2 linked regions of the Homo sapiens genome follow. The protein of the gene in region 2 purifies or fractionates together with the protein of the main gene of each other region. This does not show direct contact. Each region holds a gene or a part of one and is shown on either strand. Other genes may lie near its edges. The genes, in order: ADNP and ZMYM2.

What was found.
Region 1: the proteins of ZMYM2 (region 2) and ADNP purify together in Homo sapiens (affinity purification with mass spectrometry; 2 studies listed by BioGRID and IntAct, with this or other methods). This does not show direct contact.

The regions. Positions count from the first base shown.
Region 1 is NC_000020.11:50,918,360-50,931,051, reverse strand, and holds part of ADNP (activity-dependent neuroprotector homeobox protein), read left to right. Parts: 5' UTR 1-226; intron 227-714; exon of another isoform or gene 715-2,226; 5' UTR 2,227-2,233; coding exon of another isoform or gene 2,234-2,401; intron 2,402-11,795; exon of another isoform or gene 11,796-12,270; coding exon of another isoform or gene 12,271-12,313; exon of another isoform or gene 12,314-12,369; coding exon of another isoform or gene 12,370-12,391; intron 12,392-12,692.
Region 2 is NC_000013.11:19,961,727-19,968,726, reverse strand, and holds part of ZMYM2 (zinc finger MYM-type protein 2), read right to left. Parts: intron 3,508-7,000; coding exon of another isoform or gene 3,446-3,507; intron 439-3,445; exon of another isoform or gene 325-438; intron 1-324. UniProt on the Homo sapiens protein: Involved in the negative regulation of transcription.

The sequences.
Region 1 (12,692 bases), on a different chromosome or scaffold from region 2:
TCGACGACGCCGCCGCCGCCCGCCGCTCTGCTGCGCCCGCCGCGCCCCCCGGCAGCACCCGCGGCCGCGGCGCGAGCCGGAGTCCGCCGAGCCGGAGCGCGACGAGGCCCCGGGCGCGCCCTCCCCGCTGCCGCCACCGCCGTGCCGCCGCCATCCGCCCGCCGCCGCCGCCGCTGTCCGGCCCCCGAGCACGCCGGCCCCGCGCGCGCCTCGAGGCCGAGTCAAGGTAAGCCCGGCGCCGCCGCGCGCGGACCCGCGGCCCTGCCCTGCCTGGCTTCCCGACCCCGGCCCGCGCGGCCGCCAGTGCAGCCTGGCCCCGGGCGCGGGCGCATTGTTGTTCGCATCGCCGCCCTCCAGCCGCACACACGCTCCTTTGCACACCCCGGCGCCGACGGGTCCCCCGTCCCGGCACGGACCGCTACCCGACTCTGCTCCGGAGGTCCAGGCGCCTCCTCCTGCAGCCCGACCCCCTTCTCCGCCCTGTGAGCCCACCGAGGCCAGCACTCTGCCTGGCCGCCCGGAGCTTTTGCAGCTAAGGGCATCTCCCCCAGCCAGAACCGAGCTTCTCCCATCCTGGAACTAATCCCGTCCGCCCCCCACCCCCAAAAGGAGCCCCCCCACGCACACCCCCATGCCTTGAACCAGCCTTCTGCCAGGTCTGCCCACCCTTACCTGGGGGAGGGGGGACGGGGTTGGGGGGGGCGGGGAGCATGCATGGCATGGAGTGAGTCTTTGCCTCCCCTGTGCAATCCTTCTTCCCCAACCTGCCAGCTTTCCTCTTATCCTGACCACAGTTCACCACCATCCCTTTTCCCCAATCTCAGCTGCCTGGTCAGCACCTCTTTCGAACATTCTGAGCCCCAACTTTGCAGTAAGGTGGTAGAAAATGGAAATCCAGAGAGCTGCAAAAAGATTTTTTTTTAATGTAATGAATGGGGAGTAGTTTTGTGAACACACTCGTATTCACCTCTTCTTTCCTCTGGGAGGCCTGCCTGCCTTCCCCTCCCCCCCAACCTTGATCCCTGTCTGCTGGAAAAGGCGCGATTGCTTCTCTTCCTCTTCTGCCCAAGACCAAGACTCTAGGTCTGATATCCTTTTTAGCCACACACACACACCCCCCACACACGAAGTCTTCTTAATCTTCTTGAATTTACCAGTTACTCTGGACACTTCTTGCCATAACCCCATTTCACAGACAAAGGCTTAGGAGGGAAAAAGAACCAAACTGTTTCTGTGTTTGTCATGTTAATGATGTCCATCCCCACACACCCAGTTCCCATCCCTGATGCTTCTTGTGCCTGTATCTTGAACCTTCAGAATGAAAAAAAAAAAAATCTCTTGGATAGCTTGATACAGTTTCTTTAGAAATCTGCATTGTTGCTTCTGGTTTATGGCCATGGAGAAAATACCAGCCCCCACCCAAAATGCACCGCAGCCAAGTCGGCTAAAGGCGATGAGTGTTGGAGTCAGTAGGGGGCGCATTCTCTGCACTGGGTAAGGCTGCAGAGGGGGGAAGGGCCCCCGAGCTAGAACAGGATGTGCTTCACAGCGCCTTCTACAGACCATGGGAAAATGGGCCCAGCAAGACACACTCGCACTCTTAGTTGGTGAGCTGACAGCAACATGGCGAAGGATTAAGTGAGTCAAGAGCAGTGATTTTACTTCTTTTAAAGAGCCCACCCTGCATTTTAGAAGTTTTCTCCTTTTACTTTTTCAAAACTGTTGGCCCCCAGTCCATATTTGTTCTTGACGAATCACCTTGGCACATCCTTGGTTCGGATTCCCTTCCTCTGGAGTTCTTCCACCTCAAGTTTTGAATGTGTCACCATATCTTTCCTAAGTCTGGTGGTAAAGGAGAAGGTTTGAAACAAAGTAACAGGTTTGGGGGCATAGCTGGTTAACTCCCTTCTTCATAGGCCAAATCTTTCCAATTCTTTGAGAGTTAAAAATCATTCTTGAGAGATGTTGGATTAAGTGTGTAGATGGGTGTCATGATTTGCAAAGCCTTGTTGGTAAACATCAAGCCCATGTTGGGTTCTTCATTGTCGAACTCAAGTGTTGATTGTAAAAATTTCGTTTCCCTCCAAATTTGGACTTGTAATTGCCATTCATTATCTCAGCAGCCAACCACCTTTACAAAAATGTTGATACCAGTCTTCTGTGAGCACCCACCTTCTTAGGGTGTGTTGATTTCCATAGATTTTACTCCTCTTGTTATTTCCATAGGTGTGAGATGCACAATGCGAAACCTAGGCCCCAGCTTTTACACCATGATGCGCAGGGTTGTACTTTTTGTACTGAACTGATAGGTGGCCTAGTGGTTATGCCCTGTACTACCATTTTGAGGATCTGGACTCCGTTTCCTGCCTTGCTCTTTGGACCACATTGTCAATTCACACCGGTGGGTATATTCATTTTGGAGGGTGGGAACTGCAGCAACAGGGAAGCCAGAGACTTCCTTCTCCTTGGTCACCACCAAAACCAACACTTCCAAAATTTCAGCCTAGCCACATTCCTCAAGGAACCGGTTAGAGCTGGTTGCAGTAGTGGGTTCTGAACACTTATTAACATAAGAAATTACTTACAGCTTTTTTAAGAGAAATTTTTACAGATGCTAATATTGTAATCATTTGCATTCTACACCCCTTTGTATAAAGTATAAGTATTCAGTTACTATTACTTTGATAACCCAATCTCTAGAGTTGCTAAGCTTCTAAAAGCCTTAAATGTCTGATGAAAACATGGTTTTCCATGAACTTGTTCTTGCTACCAAAGATTGACAGTGGTTGATGTTTGTGGGTACCTTTAAGACTTTGTATGTTACATAAATACACCAAGATAAGTTTATGGAGAACTGAATGGGTGTATTCTTTGATACCTAGTTAACCAGTTGGTGCTTAACAGGAGAATTTTTCATTGGAGAATTGCTACCAGGTAACATTTTGGTGAGTGAAAAGGAGGCCCTTTGGTACAGGTATTTGACTAGAGACATTGCTTCTACAATTTCTTAGTCATTGTGAAAAATCACATATTTAAATGGGATTATTTAAATTTTTAAATACTGTATAGTATTTGTAGGCAGGTATAGTTTTTATCTTTATTTGGTGTTTTATATGCAGTTATTTAAGTTCTGAAAATGACCATATAATTTGAAGACAACTTATTTGACGGAATGTTTGAAATGAAGTTTGTTGAGGGGCTTTTGTTTGATTTAGCGAATGGGATACAGTGTTGAATGATGTCCTAAGTGGTAACAGCCATTTTCCCTTAAAGGAAAACTTGCTGTGAGCTCTTAGAAAGCATGTATTCTACTGTTTCAAAGGTTTCTTGGTTTTAACACTCAAAAAATAAGGTGAGGCCAGGTGAGGTGGCTTACGCCTGTAATCCCAAAACTTTGGGAGGCTGAGGCAGGAGAATCACTTGAGGCCAGGAGTTCAAGACCAGCTTGGGCAACATAATGAGACCCTGTCTCTACCAAAAAAAAAAAAAAAGTGAAACAATTGGGCTTGAAGACTGGAATTTATAGTAGGTAAACTATATACTTCATTAAAGTATAGTAAAAGGTTCAATTAACTAGAGTGTGGGGAATGGGTATTCTGTTTAACTGAACTTTAAGTAGAAATTCCTTTTTTATCTTGGCCTTTGTTGAAAAATTTCCTGAGACTAGCTTATTAGGAGCTATATATTGAAACTAACCTCTTTGATTTTGGTTTTTATAGTTCCTGTATAGAAAATATAGGAGATTGGGCTGAAAATCTCTTAATGACCCTTGGCCCTTCCAACCTTGGAAGTCATTGATTTTATACATGCCCACTGTGAATTTGCTTTGCTTTGCTTAAGTTTATCTTTTTCTCCTTATACCAGAGTGCAGGAAGAGTTTTAATACTATTTATATTAAAATAAGAACTTCACAACCTTGAACAGATGGTTTTGGTACCACTTGCAAGTAACCAACCAGTAGGCTTTTATCAGGCAAAAATGGCTTATTATTTATATTTGATTATTAAAAGTATAGGTATATAAGGCATACTATGTGAAGTTGTTGCTTTCCTTGTAACTACTTACACGTTTTGAAAGTATTAAAAAGTTAGTATTTTGAAAACTAAAATACTCAAGTTTATTGATTAAATAAGATGATGCTGGCTACAAATTTTATTTTGAAAATTGCAACTTAATAAGGAAGATAAAGCTGTTTTGTAAAGGAGAAAGTAGAGATTGATACTTCATAGGGTAAAAAAAAGAAAAACTTCAGCATTTATGTTTCTTCTTTTGAGAATCATATATAAGTAACAAAACTGCATAAATTGCAATAGACCTAGGTCACTTGATTTCACAATTGGGTGTGTGTATGTATGTACACATACATATAAAATATATGTAGGTTTTCTAGAGCTGGAAATGATTGTCATATTATTAAATACAGATGAAAAGTTCAAGTATCACGTGTAGTTTGGGGAAAGTACATTTAGTTTTGAGATGTAGTTTGGGGACAATACATCTAAGTGTAGTAAAAAAATACCAGAATTAAACTTTATGTATGTATTTTTTCCAAGTAACCTATTTAAATCTTAGTGAAATAAAGATTTTTAAAGTAATATGAAAGAAAAAAATAGGAAGTTTTTATTTTACAACATTAGAAGCATTATTGTGGTTTACACCAAAGTACCCATGACTGTTGTGTAAATAAGCTACTTGTTCAACCTGGAGTTCCAAAGGAGTTTTTAAAAGAGCATCATAAAGTCAGTTATGTCTTACATAAGGTAAAATAACTTTCAGTGGGAGTTTAACCTTCATTCTCTTGACTGAGAGGCATGTACATTAAGAGAAACATTGCTCCCCTATGTGTAAATAATTTAATTATAGTTGGATTCACAGAGCTTGACTTGTTATTAGCATCGTATAAACTTAAAGTTTTTCCTCCCCTAGTTTTTGTGTGTTGTTTGTTTGTTTGTTTGAGACAGTCTTGCTCTGTCTCCCAGGCTGGGGTGCGGTGGCCCAATGTCGGCTCACTGCAACCTCTGCTTCCCGGGTTCGAGTGATTTTCCTGCCTCAGCCTCTGAGTGGTTGGGATTACAGGTGCCTGCCACAACGCTTGGTTAATTTTTGTATTTTTAGTAGAGATGGGATTTCGCCATGTTGGCCAAGCTGGTCTTGAACTGCTGACCTCAGGTGATCCGCCTGCCTTGGCCTCCCCAGGTGCTGGGATTATAGGCGTGAGCCACCGCTCCCAGCCCCTCTCCTAGTTTTGTAAGAGCTTGTGATAGTAACTGGAGTAAATGCCGTATTTTGCTGATGTACCTCACTGCCAGTTAACACCTTCTATGTTGTTAGTTTGGAAACTCGGTGTTTGAAACTAGTATAAACCAAAGCCCCATGCTAATTAACTGAATTGATACTTTGAATGTAAAAGCTGTTTCTTGTTTTTACTTTGGCACTTTCCACCTTGATTGTTGAGATACTTTATTTGATAAACCGTCCATGCTTTGCCCATTGTGGGTGGCCATTGTGATTTCATGGTTTTTTGTTGTTTGTCTGATCCTGTTTATTAGAAAGTGAGGAGAGGATGATTATGTTCCTTCATCCTCTCAGTGTCTTAGTACTCCCTACACCTGCGTTATGTTATGACCTACCTTTGCGATCTGCCAGTTTTGGGGTCAGCTTAAGTGAGAATTCATATTCTGCTTCACTGGAATGAGAAGGCTCTCCTCACATATTATCATGCTTCTCAAGTTGGTATATATGAGCCAACTTGATTATGTAGTGTGTGTGTGTGTGTGTGTGTGTGTGTATAGGAAGTCACAGATAAAAATTGAGCCAACTGTGGAAAGTGACAGTTTTGATTGCAGGGCACACGTTTTTTTATTCTAATCAATGAAAAATGCAAAATTCATATTACTGTTTTTAGTCCTGGGTCCTGTCATCTCTGTGTATTAATTCAGTCCTCTGCCTTAAGGAGTTCCTTGAGATTTCACTCACAAGCTTTGGTATTATTGATCCCTACCTTGGTTCCAAGACAGCAGCTAGAGAAAGCCTGGAACCTCTCAAGAATTTCAGCAGTGTTCTGGAAATAAAGATTTAGAAAATAAGAGGAAAGCATAGACAACGTTGGATGGAGTTTACAAAGGGAAGCCTGCTCTGAATATATGCCACAGTTTTAGATTTAAGTTAAAGATTTAATTTAAAAGCATACACGTAATCTAAAAGAGTCATGCATTATTTGACCAGCTGTTAGAATTAAAAATGAATCTGCATATCCTAATACCCTCTTCAGTAAGGGTATAGATTTGTAATTGAGTCACTTAGCTGTGGGTTGTGTTTATATGTCACTTCTCATGTGACTGTGATGACTTTAATAAGGATGTGCTGCTTAAGTGTAAAGGCCCCCTTGCTGGCCTTTATGGTATTATAGTATTGGTGGCTTGTCTGTTTTATTTTCCAAGCACTTTATAAACTATTCCCAATTTTCTCAGGACTATCCTTGTTTCACAAGTAGGGAAATCAAGGCACTACCACATACAATGATGAAATGAGCCACAGAGTATGTCTGGGCTGGTTCCCAGGCCTGTGCTTGCAACACAGGCCTTTATGGTGCTCTTGTAAGCTGTTTGGCTAATGGGGGCTCACATGAATGCTTCCCATTTCACAGTGAGGTTTTATGCTTCCATGTGAGCTTAAACCCAAGGATTCCAATGGCGTCTACATGTAAAGAAGCTAGCCACACCCCCAGCAGGGAGAGTATGGGTGTAAATTGTGCAGGTGGCAGTTAATTGGAGTAGCATATTTCTGCTGGGAAGTTAACTGTATAAGAATCTAAAAAGAAACGTTGTTTATGTTCCCTTTTCTTTTCCCAGTTTTTTAGTTTAAGACAGTCAGTCTGTCCTGAGCAGTTACTTTTTTCTTAGATAATTGCTGGCTTTTACCCTTTCTTTTTCTGAATCCTTCATGCTCCATTTAAGAGCTTGTGGAAACCTGTGCTTCAGTTGACAATCTGTAAAGCTCTGCTCTTCTGGTGGAAGCTCATGACCTGAGAACCTTTTGAGTGGTCTCTTTTGAGAAACTCCTGTCTAGTGGAAATATGGTGGAATTTATTAAAATTTTCAATTCGAATTATAAATTTAGGTTGACAGAATCCTTGCTCTTGTGAAAGAAGTGAGCTGAGACTGGGAGTATCCAAATGCAAGAAGTGCTCAGAATCCTGCTTCAAGATCAGTTACACTTAAAAACAGCAACAAGAGGATGGGTGCGGTGGCTTACATCTGTAATCCCAGCACTTTGGGAAGCCAAGGCTGGCGGGTCACCTGAGGTCAGGAGTTCAAGACCAGCCTGGCCAACATGGTGAAACCCCATCTCTACTAAAAATACAAAAGTTATCCTGGTGTGGTGGCACTCACATGTAGTCTCAGCTACTTGGGAGGCTGAGGCAGGAGAATCACTTGAACCTGGGAGGCGGAGGTTGCAGTGAGCCAAGATGGCACCACTGCACTCTAGCCTGGGTGACAGAGTGAGACTCAGTCTCAAAAAAAAATAAAAATAAAAAACAGCAACCAAAAAAAATGCAAATAAAACTTCTCTGAGGAAAGTGTGAAAACTTGAGCCATCAAGTGGCAAAACCTGGTACAAGAACGCTTTTGAAAAGCTACCTTCGGTGAAGCCTTGATCCTGGGAAATGGCTTCGAAAAACTTGAGAACATAGTTTAAATATTCTGTTACTCAAGAATAGTGAAAGAAATATATTTCCTATTGTGGGAAATTATTTCTGAGTAGTTTCGGTAGAGCATAAAAATGTATTATTAGGGGATCAAAATAACGTTTTATGTCATTTAGATACAAAGACTTGGCATGCTTCTGAAATAATTTATAAATGGACATATCTGCGTGTCCTCTTGTGGTGTTGTGATACATACTGGTTTTCATCCACCACGGTTCCTGGCTCATAACACCCATAACCCCATTACCGTGTTTTGTTATAATATAGGGTACGTTAGGTCTCAGAAAATAATCTCTGATCTTCTCCTGCTCTCCTTACACGTGTCCCAAGGCAAGATTCTGATCTTTACCCAGCTTTCTGATTGTAGGTCTTGAGATCCTCTCTAGAGAGAGGGTGTTGGCCCTATACCCCGGGGAAGGGAAGTAAGGTTTCCTATATGAAGCTTTTATAAAAACCCAGGAGGGCCAGGCGCGGTGGCTCACGCCTGTAATCCCAGCATTTTGGGAGGCTGGGGGCGAGCAAATCACAAGTTTAGGAGTTTGAGACCAGCCTGGCCATCGTGGTGAAACCCCATCTCTACTAAAAATACAAAAAAAATTAGCTGGGTTTAGTGGTGGGGGCCTATAATCCCAGCTACTCAGGAGGCTGAGGCTGGAGAATTGCTCAAACCCGGGAGGCAGAGGTTACAGTGAGGCGAGATTGCACCACTGCACTCCAGCCTGGGGGACAGAGTGAGATTCTGTCTTTAAAAAAAAAAAAAAAAAACGCAGGAGGACTGGGTTCAGAGAGCTTCCAGATAGTTGAACACACCTGGAGGGTGGCGCCCCCAGAGAGGGTATGGAAGCCCAGTGCCCTTACGCATTTCTTTATCTGTACTTTTTATAATAAACCGGTAAACATAAGTGTTTCCCCAAGTTTTGTGAGATGCTCCAGCAAATTAATAGAACTCAAGGAGGGGGTCTTGGGAACCCCAGCTTGAAGTGTCAGTCAGAAGTTCTGGAGGCCCAGACTTACAGTTGGAGTCTGAAGAAGGAGAGAGCAGTTTTGGGGACTGAGCCCCCATCTTGTGGAATATGACACTGTATCCAGGTAGACAGTGTCAGAACCAAATTAGAGGATACTCAGCTGGTGTCCGCTGCTTGGGAAAAAACCCTACACGTTTGGTCACAGAAGACAACTTCACGACTTCTGTGTGGTGTGAGGGCAGAGGAAAAACAAAGTTTGAGAGTTTTCCCCTAAAGCACCCCTTAAGGGCTACTTGTGAATTATTTCCCTTTTTCACATTGATCTTAAGCCAGATTGTCCACTTACAGCGACAGCAAGTGGCTGTATGCCTGTGGAGTTCTTATGTAGGCAGTGGAGTGCTAGAATCACTCTTTATGCTGTGTCCCTGCCTTGCTGCAATACCTGTTTAGAGTGAAGTAAACTGGGAAGTGCTCCTCACCTCACACTCTCCCTAAATCTAAATTGGTATATTATAAAGTATCCTCAGTCTGTTTTTCTTGTTTAAGTACCGAGGCATCTTCCCCCGCTTTCAAATACAATTTTAGGTGAACTCTTAAATTGATGAAGGGTCGGGGGGCCAGACCTCTGGCTGCCCAGCTTTCACCTTGTCCCTCAGGCATCATCTTCCCTCTGTTTGTATACATATCTTAAACTCTTAGAGGAGTTCAGCCTGAAAACAACTGGTTCTACTGGTGTACTGGAAATTCTGGTGGTCACTGCTAGAATTCTTGCCTGAAATCTGAATACGGAAAGTATCAGGATAAGCAGCAACACAGTAGCAGTTTTCCAGTTGTGGGCACCAGTCTTGTAGTCTGAAAATCTTCCTAAAAGACCAGTGACTCCACATATTTTTTAAAACTTAAGATACGCAAAATCTAGATGACACCTTTATGTTTCTACATAACTGTAAGTCACCTGGGTTTATTTAAGATAGTTGCAGATGTTCAGTTGCCTAAATATTTTAAGTGTCACTGAGCTTGTTAAGAATATGCAAACCTGAGTATGAATGGCTCACACAGATGTAAAATATTGTATAAAAACACTACTGTGCATGATGCATTGTAATGTGTACAGGAACAGATGTTGTTATGGCAACCACATCTGATTCTCAGTCATAATAGTTTGAGCTTTTTGGAGAGGTTATGCCCTGGTGTGAACTCAGAATTTTGAAAGTGATTATTTTAGTATCTCATCTGGTTTAAGGTGATAATGGTAACTGACTTAAGCATTAACTTGCATCATCTCATTTAATCCTTCTGCCATTAAAACAATGAGATAGTGTCCTTCTGCTTATGCCATAAGAAAACAGACCTCTAGAGGTTAAATAACATGTGTAGGATCACAAAGCTTGTAAGTGGCAGAGCAAGGATTTAAATACAGATCTGTCTAACTGTAGGGTGGACCACTGCATCTTTATTTTCTAGCAAAGAAAAGCTTTACTGTGCTATGTCACCCTACCTCTTGTTAAGGAGGTTTGAAGTTATAAGGTACAAATTTTTTACATATGGCTGATAGGTAAGTTTTTGTCCAGGAAAATAGTATTATTAGCACAAATTTTGACTTAGGCTATAAGCTTCACCTGTGAACCTTTTCTTTTCCCCTCGTTTTACTCTTACCCCAGTATCCTATTATCTCATACCTAAGGCAGTGATGGTTTCTCAGACCTCTTAGATTGAGAAGATGTGGCATGGGTGTAAGGTCCCTCAGGTAATTCTGAGGGTTGGGTAGGTCTGGTATCTACTCTTTTACTTAATTGACTTCCTCCAGGCTTTTTTTTTTTTTTTAATGGAGTCCAGGCTGGAGTGCAGTGGCGCGATCTCAACCTCTGCCTCCTGGGCGCAAGAAATTCTCCTGCCTCAGCCTCCCGAGTAGCTGGGATTACAGGCGCTGGCCACCACACCGAGCTCATGTTTGTATTTTTAGTAGAGATGGGTTTCACCATGTTGGTCAGGCTTGTCTCAAACTCCTGACCTCAAGTGATCTGTCTGCCTTGGCCTCCCAAAGTGCTGGGATTGCAGGCATGAGCCACTGCTTTCTTTTTCTTTCTTTCTTTCTTTTTTTTTTTTTTTTTTTTTTGGAGGTGGAATCTCGCTCTGTTGCCCAGGCTGGAGTGCAGTGACTGCAACCTCCGCCTCCCGGATTCAAGCAATTTTTCTGCCTCAGCGTCCTGAGTAGCTGGGATTACAGGCGCACACCACCACGCCCGGCTAATTTTTGTATTTTTAGTAGAGATGGGGTTTCACCATATTCGCCAGGCTGGTCTCGAGCTCCTGACTTCGTGATCTGCCCATCTTGGCCTCCCAAAGTGCTGGGATTTCAGGCATGAGCCACCACACCCGGCCTGGATTAATCCTCTTAAAGTGCCATTAGAATCATGTCCCTTCTGTACTTCGTTACCTGCAGCATCTCCTCGGTGCCTACCAGACATGGCAGCAGACTCCAGCTTCACATTCAAGATCCCCATCCTATCCTCACCCTGCCTTTCCAATCATGTCGTTCCTTGTTACTCAGAAGCTTGACATAGCAACCATTCTGACTCAGTGGAGTTGAGCAAGAAGTTCCTAGAACACCTTGCTTTCCGGCCTCTGGAACTGCGCCAGAAGTCTTTTGCAGTAAATGCAGATTCTTCACCTAAGTTAATGGCCCCAACTCAGCAGCTGTTGCCACCCTCCCTGCTGAGAATGAACTAAACATGAAGCCTCCTAGGATTTAGTTTGTGACACATCTGATACATCGCCTCTTTTACTGCAAATATTTATTGGATGTCATATCTGTAAGCCTTTTCTAGGCAGAGATTCATTCATTCTGTCTGAATTTATTGAGTGCCTGCTTTGTTCTAGTCATTGACATAGATGATAGAGATACAGCAGGGAAAAAAACCAAAGTTCCAGGGTCTCCCTTTGTAACGCAGGCTGGAGTATAGTGGCACCATCATAGCTCACTGCAACTCAAGCCATTCTCCCACCTCAGCCTCCCAAGTAGCTGGGACTATAGGCATGCACCATCACACCTGGCTTTTTACATATATATATATATATATATATATACACTTAAATATATGTATTTTTTCAGGCTGGTCTTGAACTCTTGGGCTCAAGCAATCCTCCCACCTCAGCCTTCCAAAGTGCTGGGAGCTGTGAGCTACACCTGTGAGATGGCACCCTTGTCCTGCTGCATATTTTAAGAGTTCTGTTTAGTCCATCAATTGAGGTCAGGAAAATGAACGTGCTGAAAGATAATATGTAATGATAATAATTTGTAGACATAAATGCCAGCCGTGTCTGTTAACTATTTCAGGTGATATTGTACTAAATCTCTGAAATCACCTGTGATGAACTTTTAAAATAAATAAAACTTTTAAGTCACAGTGTGATTATAATTTTTGTATAATTGGTAGGTAATGTGATGAACCAGGCTGTTTATTTACCATTAGATTGTTGGTTTGCTATAAATGAACTACACCAGCATGAGAGAAAACAAAACTTCCTTAAAGTGCTAAAATTAAATTTTTCATCATTCTGTTACCTTTCAAAAGCTTTCCATTTCATTTTTCCCAGGACCTCTCCTCTTGTTCTTCTACTTTTGTAGCGGAAACTGAAGGTAATTTGAAATTTTAACACATGGGAATTCTCTGAAGATCTTTTCTCTACTGCCACATGCTCAAGTTTGCAAAACAAGGTAGTTGAACGTCTCACTGAAGTAACCCAGCTGTACTAAATCTATTAGTTAAGGCAGAGTGAATCAGGGCCTTCATTGCCAAAAGTAATATAATATCCTGTTCCTGGCCTCTTGGAGTGGAGCAGATTTGCCAATAACGTGAACACTCTACCATTTTTTTTTCTTTAAGTACTTAAAGGTTTTGGGGCCACCTAGGTTCCATTAATGTATTACCACTCATATTAAATGATTATAGTGTCAAAAATGGTCTGGAAATTTGTATAGACCTTCAAAATGCTGTGTTACATCCACGGTTTGTTCT
Region 2 (7,000 bases):
TTTAGGAAAAATTAATCTGGCTACAATGGAGTCAAGAATAGGAAGAAACTGCCTTGTAAATAATTCCGTTTTCTAACAGACTAAGGTGAAAGTTAAAAGCATAGTAAGAGCTAAAGATGACAGTAAAGGACACTTAAAGGTCTCAACATTAGTCTAGTGAGGGGAGGTCTGGTGCGGTGGCTCACGCCTGTAATCCCAGCACTTTGGGAGGCCAAGGTGGGCAGATCACCTGAGGTCAGGAGTTCGAGACCAGCCTAGCTAACATGGTTAAACCCCATTTCTACTAAAAATACAAAAAAATTAGCCAGGGACAGTGGCGCGCACCTGTAATCCCAGTGCACCTGTAGTCCCAGCTACTCGGGAGGTTGAGGCAGGAGAATCGCTTGAACCCGGGAGGCGGAGGTTGCAGTGGACCGAGATCACACCATTGCGCTCCAGCTTGAGCAAGAAGAGCAAAACTCTGGCTCAAAAAAAGGAAAGTCTAGCGAGGGGAAGTGAAGGAGGTGGTCATAACTATGAGACCACATTAAGCCCCAGAAGCAAAAATTTTAAATGTTACAGAATTAAGACAAAAAGAAGCAGTTAAAAGATTTGGCAATTAGGTCACTAGCGACCTCAGAAGAGATTTGTTATAGTGTTGACAGTGCAGATCAGACAGTGGATTTCTTTCTAAAAGTATAGGGAAAAGAAGAAATCGTTAGAAAAAGATGCAGAGATTCTGGAGGATAAAGCATTTTTATCTCGATGGAGGATAAAGCACTGCAGACTAATGAAAAAGCCAGAAGAGGGAAGTCGGTGAAGAGAAACATAGAAATTCTTCTAGTCATTACCAGATAAGCACACACTAAGTTTACCATACCAGGTGGTGGCAGCAAATTCATTATGTTTGGTCCATATAAACAGACAGTTTAAGAATTGCAGCTGCTATTAACTGAGCACCTACTATTGGCCAGCTGCATACCCTGTATTATTTTTAGTCCTCACCTCAACAATCTCAGGAAACCAGGCATTACCATACTCATTTGTTAACTGACTGAACTACAGCTCAGATGTTACATGACTTGCCTGATATCGCAAACTGGTAAATACTGGAGCAAAATTGTTTTTAATAGTTATATTAAAGCATAATGTACGTGTAGTAAAATTTACTTATTTTAAGTGAAAGATTTGATAAATGTATTAAATGTATATACTTCTGCAACAATCACCACAATCCAGTTTTATATAACACTCTATCACCCCAAAACTCCCTTCATGAGCAGGGCAGATTTAAGCCTGAATCTGTATGACTCCAACTCATGTCATGCTACAATGAGAAAAATGGCTTTTTTTGGCAGAAAATCTGCAAAATTAAGTCGTTACCCTTCCAATCTTCTCTTAGTACTCACTAGTTCCCTTTCCATGTGAGGCCCTCATATATCTCTAGAACCATACTCACATATCATGATCTCACCAAATTCACGAGTTTACTGTAATTTGGAAACATACCCCCTAAAAGGACAGTATAATCAGACTTTTATATAGGATGCTATTACAGATACTGTGCTCTTTTTTTAAAAAAAGCAAAAGGAGTTAGGAAAAGGAAAGACAAATGAACAGGTAAGTCCAGGAGGAAGACTGAATGAAAACAGAAGAGTAAGGTCCTTGAAAAAGGAAAATGTGATATACAAATAAAGAAAACATGAAATAACAGAAGTCAGGAGTCTGTGTCATGGAAGAGAGACTAACTGGAACAGAAGCTTCTCTTCCATAAGCAATGTAAAACCGTACAGAGACATAGGATGGAATGACTTCCTAGGCAGGAGTTAACACTTATTTGGCTAAGAAACAGGACTATACAATAATAAGACAGACAAAAATCAAAATAAAGTGAGACAATATTCATAGTAAAGTTATAAAGCTAAAACTTGTTAAATTTTATAATCATGATTTTCCTATAACTAATTAAAACAAGTGCAAATTTTTCTTTAGGTAAAAAAACAAGCAGGCTGGGCGCGGTGGCTCACGACCATAATCCCAGCACTTTGGGAGGCCAAGGCAGGCAGATCACCTGAGGTCAGGAGTTCAAGACCAGGCTGACCAACATGGAGAAACCCCGTCTATACTAAAAATACAAAATCAGCCCGGCGTGGTGGCACATGCCTGTAATCCCAGCTACGCAGGAGAAACGCTTGAAACCAGGAGGTAGGGGCTGCGGTGAGCCCTGATCACACCATTGCACTCCAACCTAGGCAACAAGAGCAAAACTCTGTATCCAAAAAAAAAAAAAGAATTATAGACATATAAGAATTCAGGCCTGGTGCAGTGGTTCACATCTGTAATCCCAGCACTTTGGGAGGCTTAGGCAGGTAGATAACCTGAGGTCGGGAGTTCAAGACCAGCCTCACCAACATGTAGAAACCCCATCTCTACTAAAAATACAAAATTAGCCAGGCGTGGCGGCTCATGCCTGCAATCCAAGCTACTCAGGAGGCTGAGGCAGGAGAATCACTTGAACCCGGGAGGCGGAGGTTGCGTTGAGCCGAGATTGCACCATTGCACTCCAGCCTGGGCAACAAGAGAGAAACTCTGTCTCAAAACAAAACAAAACAAAACAAAAACAAAAAAAAAAACAAGCAAATATAGAATTATAAATATATAAGAATTCAGGCCTGGTGCGGTGGCTCACACCTGTAATCCCAGCACTTTGGGAGGCCCAGGCAGGTGGATCACCTGAGTTCAGGAGTTCAAAACCAGCTGGCCAACACGGTGAAACCCTGTCTCTATTAAAAATACAAAAATTAGCCAGGTGTGGTGGTGCACACTTGTAATCCCAGCTACACAGGAGGCTGAGGCAGGAGAATTGCTTCAAGTTGAACCCAGGAGGCGGAGGTTGCAGTGAGCTGAGATCATGCCATTGCACTCTGGTCTAGGCAACACAGCAAGACTCCGTCTCAAAAAAAAAAAAAAAAAAAAGAATTCAGATACCATATCAGGGCCAGAAATAATTAAAATGATTAAAATAAGATATGACAAGCCTGGAACGAAAAAAAGTACAAATCTAAACAGGAGGATAAAATAAAATTTTCATTTAACTTATATTTTCACTTCCACCCAAACCTTTCCTTAGTTCTATAGAACTAGAAACACAATTCACTAAGTCTAGATGAAATGCTCTTCCAAGCAGAGCCAAAGAAACTGCTAGCCCATAATTAACAGAACACATATTTTATGACTATCTAATATATAACAGGTGTTGTAATATCCAATTTGTTAAATCAGTCCCCTGATTATTACCCTGAACACTCTGTCTAGTCCAACTTGATATTCCAAGAAACACTATTCTTCCTAGGAAAAAGACATACCTCTTTGAAATGAATGATTATAAAACTGTTCCAGTATTAGAAGAGAAGTCATTTTTTAATGTTAAGTAACAAAACCCAAAAATTTAGTTGTCAATTCTTACACTAGTAAGTCCAGAGATGGTATCCAGGTGACTACGGCAGAGAGTAATATACACATGTATGGCTATAAAGTAAAAAGAATTTGTCTCACTGTATTATAGTCACATTTTACAAACATTATTCTGTCTGCAACTTCTAACTGTGCATCCCAATGTTACTTAGAATAGCTATGTAAGTATTTTTCTTTTTTTTTTTTTATTATACTTTAAGTTTTAGGGTACATGTGCACATTGTGCAGGTTAGTTACATATGTATACATGTGCCATGCTGGTGCGCTGCACCCACTAACTTAAGTATTTTTCTTATCCAACCTAAATGCATGGTTAGAGACAAATAAGTTTAATGCAAGAGTTTTAACAGATCTTTCCCAACATTTGCATATGAAGTTGCAACAATTAGTTATATTCCTAGCAAATTTATCCTGATTACAATTTAACATTAACTTGTAATATAAAAAAACATTTTTATGGATAAATTTTTAAAAACTCTTTAGACTAACTTATAAATTCACAAAAACTAATCTGACCTTGAAATTCACTAGGAACACTTAGAGAGAAAAAAAAAAATCTGGAACCCTCTGAAAAAGAGAGAAAAACCTAATCCTTGGCAGCCTACTGACATTAAAGAGAACGGTCTAAATTAAGAATAAACAAAAACAAGATGATAACTTATACTAATAAAACATAAACGTGCAAAAGTTTTTAAAAACCCAACCTACTGGCTGGGCATGGTGGCTCACGCCTGAAATCCCAACACTTTGGGAGGCCAAGGTGGGAAGATCGCTTGAGTCCAGCAGTTTGAGAGCAGTGTGGACAACAAAGTGGGTCCCTGTCTCTACAAAAAACCGACCTATTAAACATGCATTATCTATTTCTGTGAATAATCACTTTATTTTTTTTTTTATTTTTGAGACGGTCTCTCACTCTATTGCCCAGGCTGGAGTGCAGTGGTGCAATCTTGGCTAACTGCAACCTCCACCTCCCAGTTTCAGGTGATTCTCCTACCTCAGCCTCCTGAGTAGCTGGCATGACGGGTGCCTACCACCATGCCTGACTAATCTTTGTATTTTAGTAGAGACAGGGTTTCACCACATTGGCCAGGCTGGTCTCGAACTCTTGACCTCAGGTGATCCACCCGCCTCAGTCTCCCAAAGCTAAGATTACAGGCGTGAGCCACTGAGCCCGGCCAACCAGTTTACTCTTATGTCATTTCTTGAAATAGCAAACATGAATATTTACAGAACATTAATCAAATCAGTAAAACTAAAACCCAACAGCTATACCCTTCTTTCAAATTAAAGAGCATTGATTTTTCTTAAAATTTATTACTTCTAATTTTCAATGGACTGTTATAAAGTTAAAAATAAAACAGGACTAAGAACAAATCCCAAAGTCATACTAATCAAGTGATTTTGCTAACCTCTCTGCACATCTTTTTAAACTCTTAAAAAGAGTTTAAAAAATGTTTACGAAAATTCATTCTGCAGCTCCACAGAAGTGCTTCAAGTATTGTGTAAAGCTTGATCCAAAAAAAATTAATATATCTTAAATATGCACAAAAACAACAGATATGTTCAAATGTGTTATAATCCAAATTTTAACACATTTTAAAATGACCAACTCATCTTGTTGCCAAGCATTTGGTGATGACCATAAAGACCCTTTTCATATGTCTATTTTAGTAAGAGACATCAAAGACTACGAAGTGATTTGTTTAAAAAACCAGGTTGTAAATATAAAAATGTGCAACTCCAACTACATAAAAAAAAAAATTCTTGCTGGTATACAACCAAAATAAAATATGAAAATAAGCTGCAACTGTTACTCAGATTGCTGCACTCAAATTCATGGATTTATCCAACAGCAATTTTTCTCATTGACAACTTTGTAAGTGTTATATATTGGAGACCTGCATTAGAACTTTTTGATCTGAATACTTCAAAAGTCCTGTTCACTTCTATGCTTTGACAGGAATATAAGAAAATTAACCAACTGAAGTGTTTTTAAAGGAGCAAAACGCAGGGAGTCAAAGCAATTTATTTCTTCCCTAAATTGAAATGCCCTACATAAAATACTATTTGTGAATCCAATGAGAGAAAACACTTGAGTTTGGGCTCTCCTTGCATTCGCTAAAAAAATCACATGCAGGCCGGCACGGTGGCTCACGCCTGTAATCTCAGCACTCTGGAAGGTTGAGGCGGGCAGATCACCGGAGCTCAGGAGTTCGAGACCAGTCTGGCCAACATGGTGAAACCTTGTCTCTACTAAAAATCCCCATCTCTACTAAAAATACAAAACTAGCCAGGTGTAGTGGCACGTGCCTGTAGTCCCAGCTACTTGGGAAGCTGAGGCAGGAGAATGCTTGAACCCTGGAGGCGGAGGCTGCAGTGAGCAGACATCACGCCACTGCACTCCAGCCTGGATGACAGAGACTCTGTCTCAAAAAAAAAAAAAAAAAAATGGCTGGGCAAGGTGGCTTACGCCTGTAATCTCAGCACTTTGGGAGGCTGAGGCAGGCGAATAACTTGAGGCCAGGAGTTCGAGATCAGCCTGACCAACATGGTGAAATCCTGTTTCTACTAAAAATACAAAATTGGTCAGGCACAGTGGCGCATGCCTGTAATCCCAACTACTTGGGAGGCTGAGGCAGGAGAATCACTTGAACCCAGGAGGCAGAGGTTGCAGTGAGCCAAGATCACATCACTGCACTCCAGCCTGGGCAACAAGAGTGAAACTCCATCTCAAAAAAAAAAAAAAAAAAAAAAAAAATATATATATATATATATATCCCATGCAATTTGAATAGCCCAGTCTTCTCATAATCAACGACATTTATTATGATATATATTAATAATATTGTCAAATGGTATAGAGACATATTAATGCTAGAGAGACAGGAAATATAACAATTCTAATTATACCATGCCTTTTGACACCAGGGTTTCAGCATTTCATACCCATTCTTCCCATCACATTAATACCAGAGCATCTGACTGAAGGTAAAGATTCACTTTGTCTCAAATGCATTAATATTAAATTTGTACACTTCTGTACCTCAAACAAGGGCAAAATACAATAAAACTGAAAAAATAAAAACTGTTGTTCAAAGATAATATAAGCTCTATATCCACACAGAAGTTAAAAATGTTCATATGTCAGCATATATGTCATACTTGAGTGATTCAGGATTGTCTCACCACATGAGATACAAAAGCCCAGCCCATGGAAAAGTAGGGACCACTTTATATCTTCCTCCCAACAATTTAAAAGGATAGGTGGGAGGGAACAGATATTAGAAAGGATGCACTAAAGAAATATGCCATAAATATGCAAAGTATTTTTAACTGTCAAAATACTTTGTAAATGGATCTAAAAGCATTTACATATGTTCCTACTGTATAATAAAAGTACTTATTTAGTCAAGGCCAATTAAAAATCATCAGGTTATCTTCATCTTACTGTCTAGCACATAGCAGCATCACTAGTTGCTGTTTTTAAGTAAAGAAATGTTCAACTCTAAGCTAAATCGTTAAGCAAAACAAGAACCATTCTGGTATT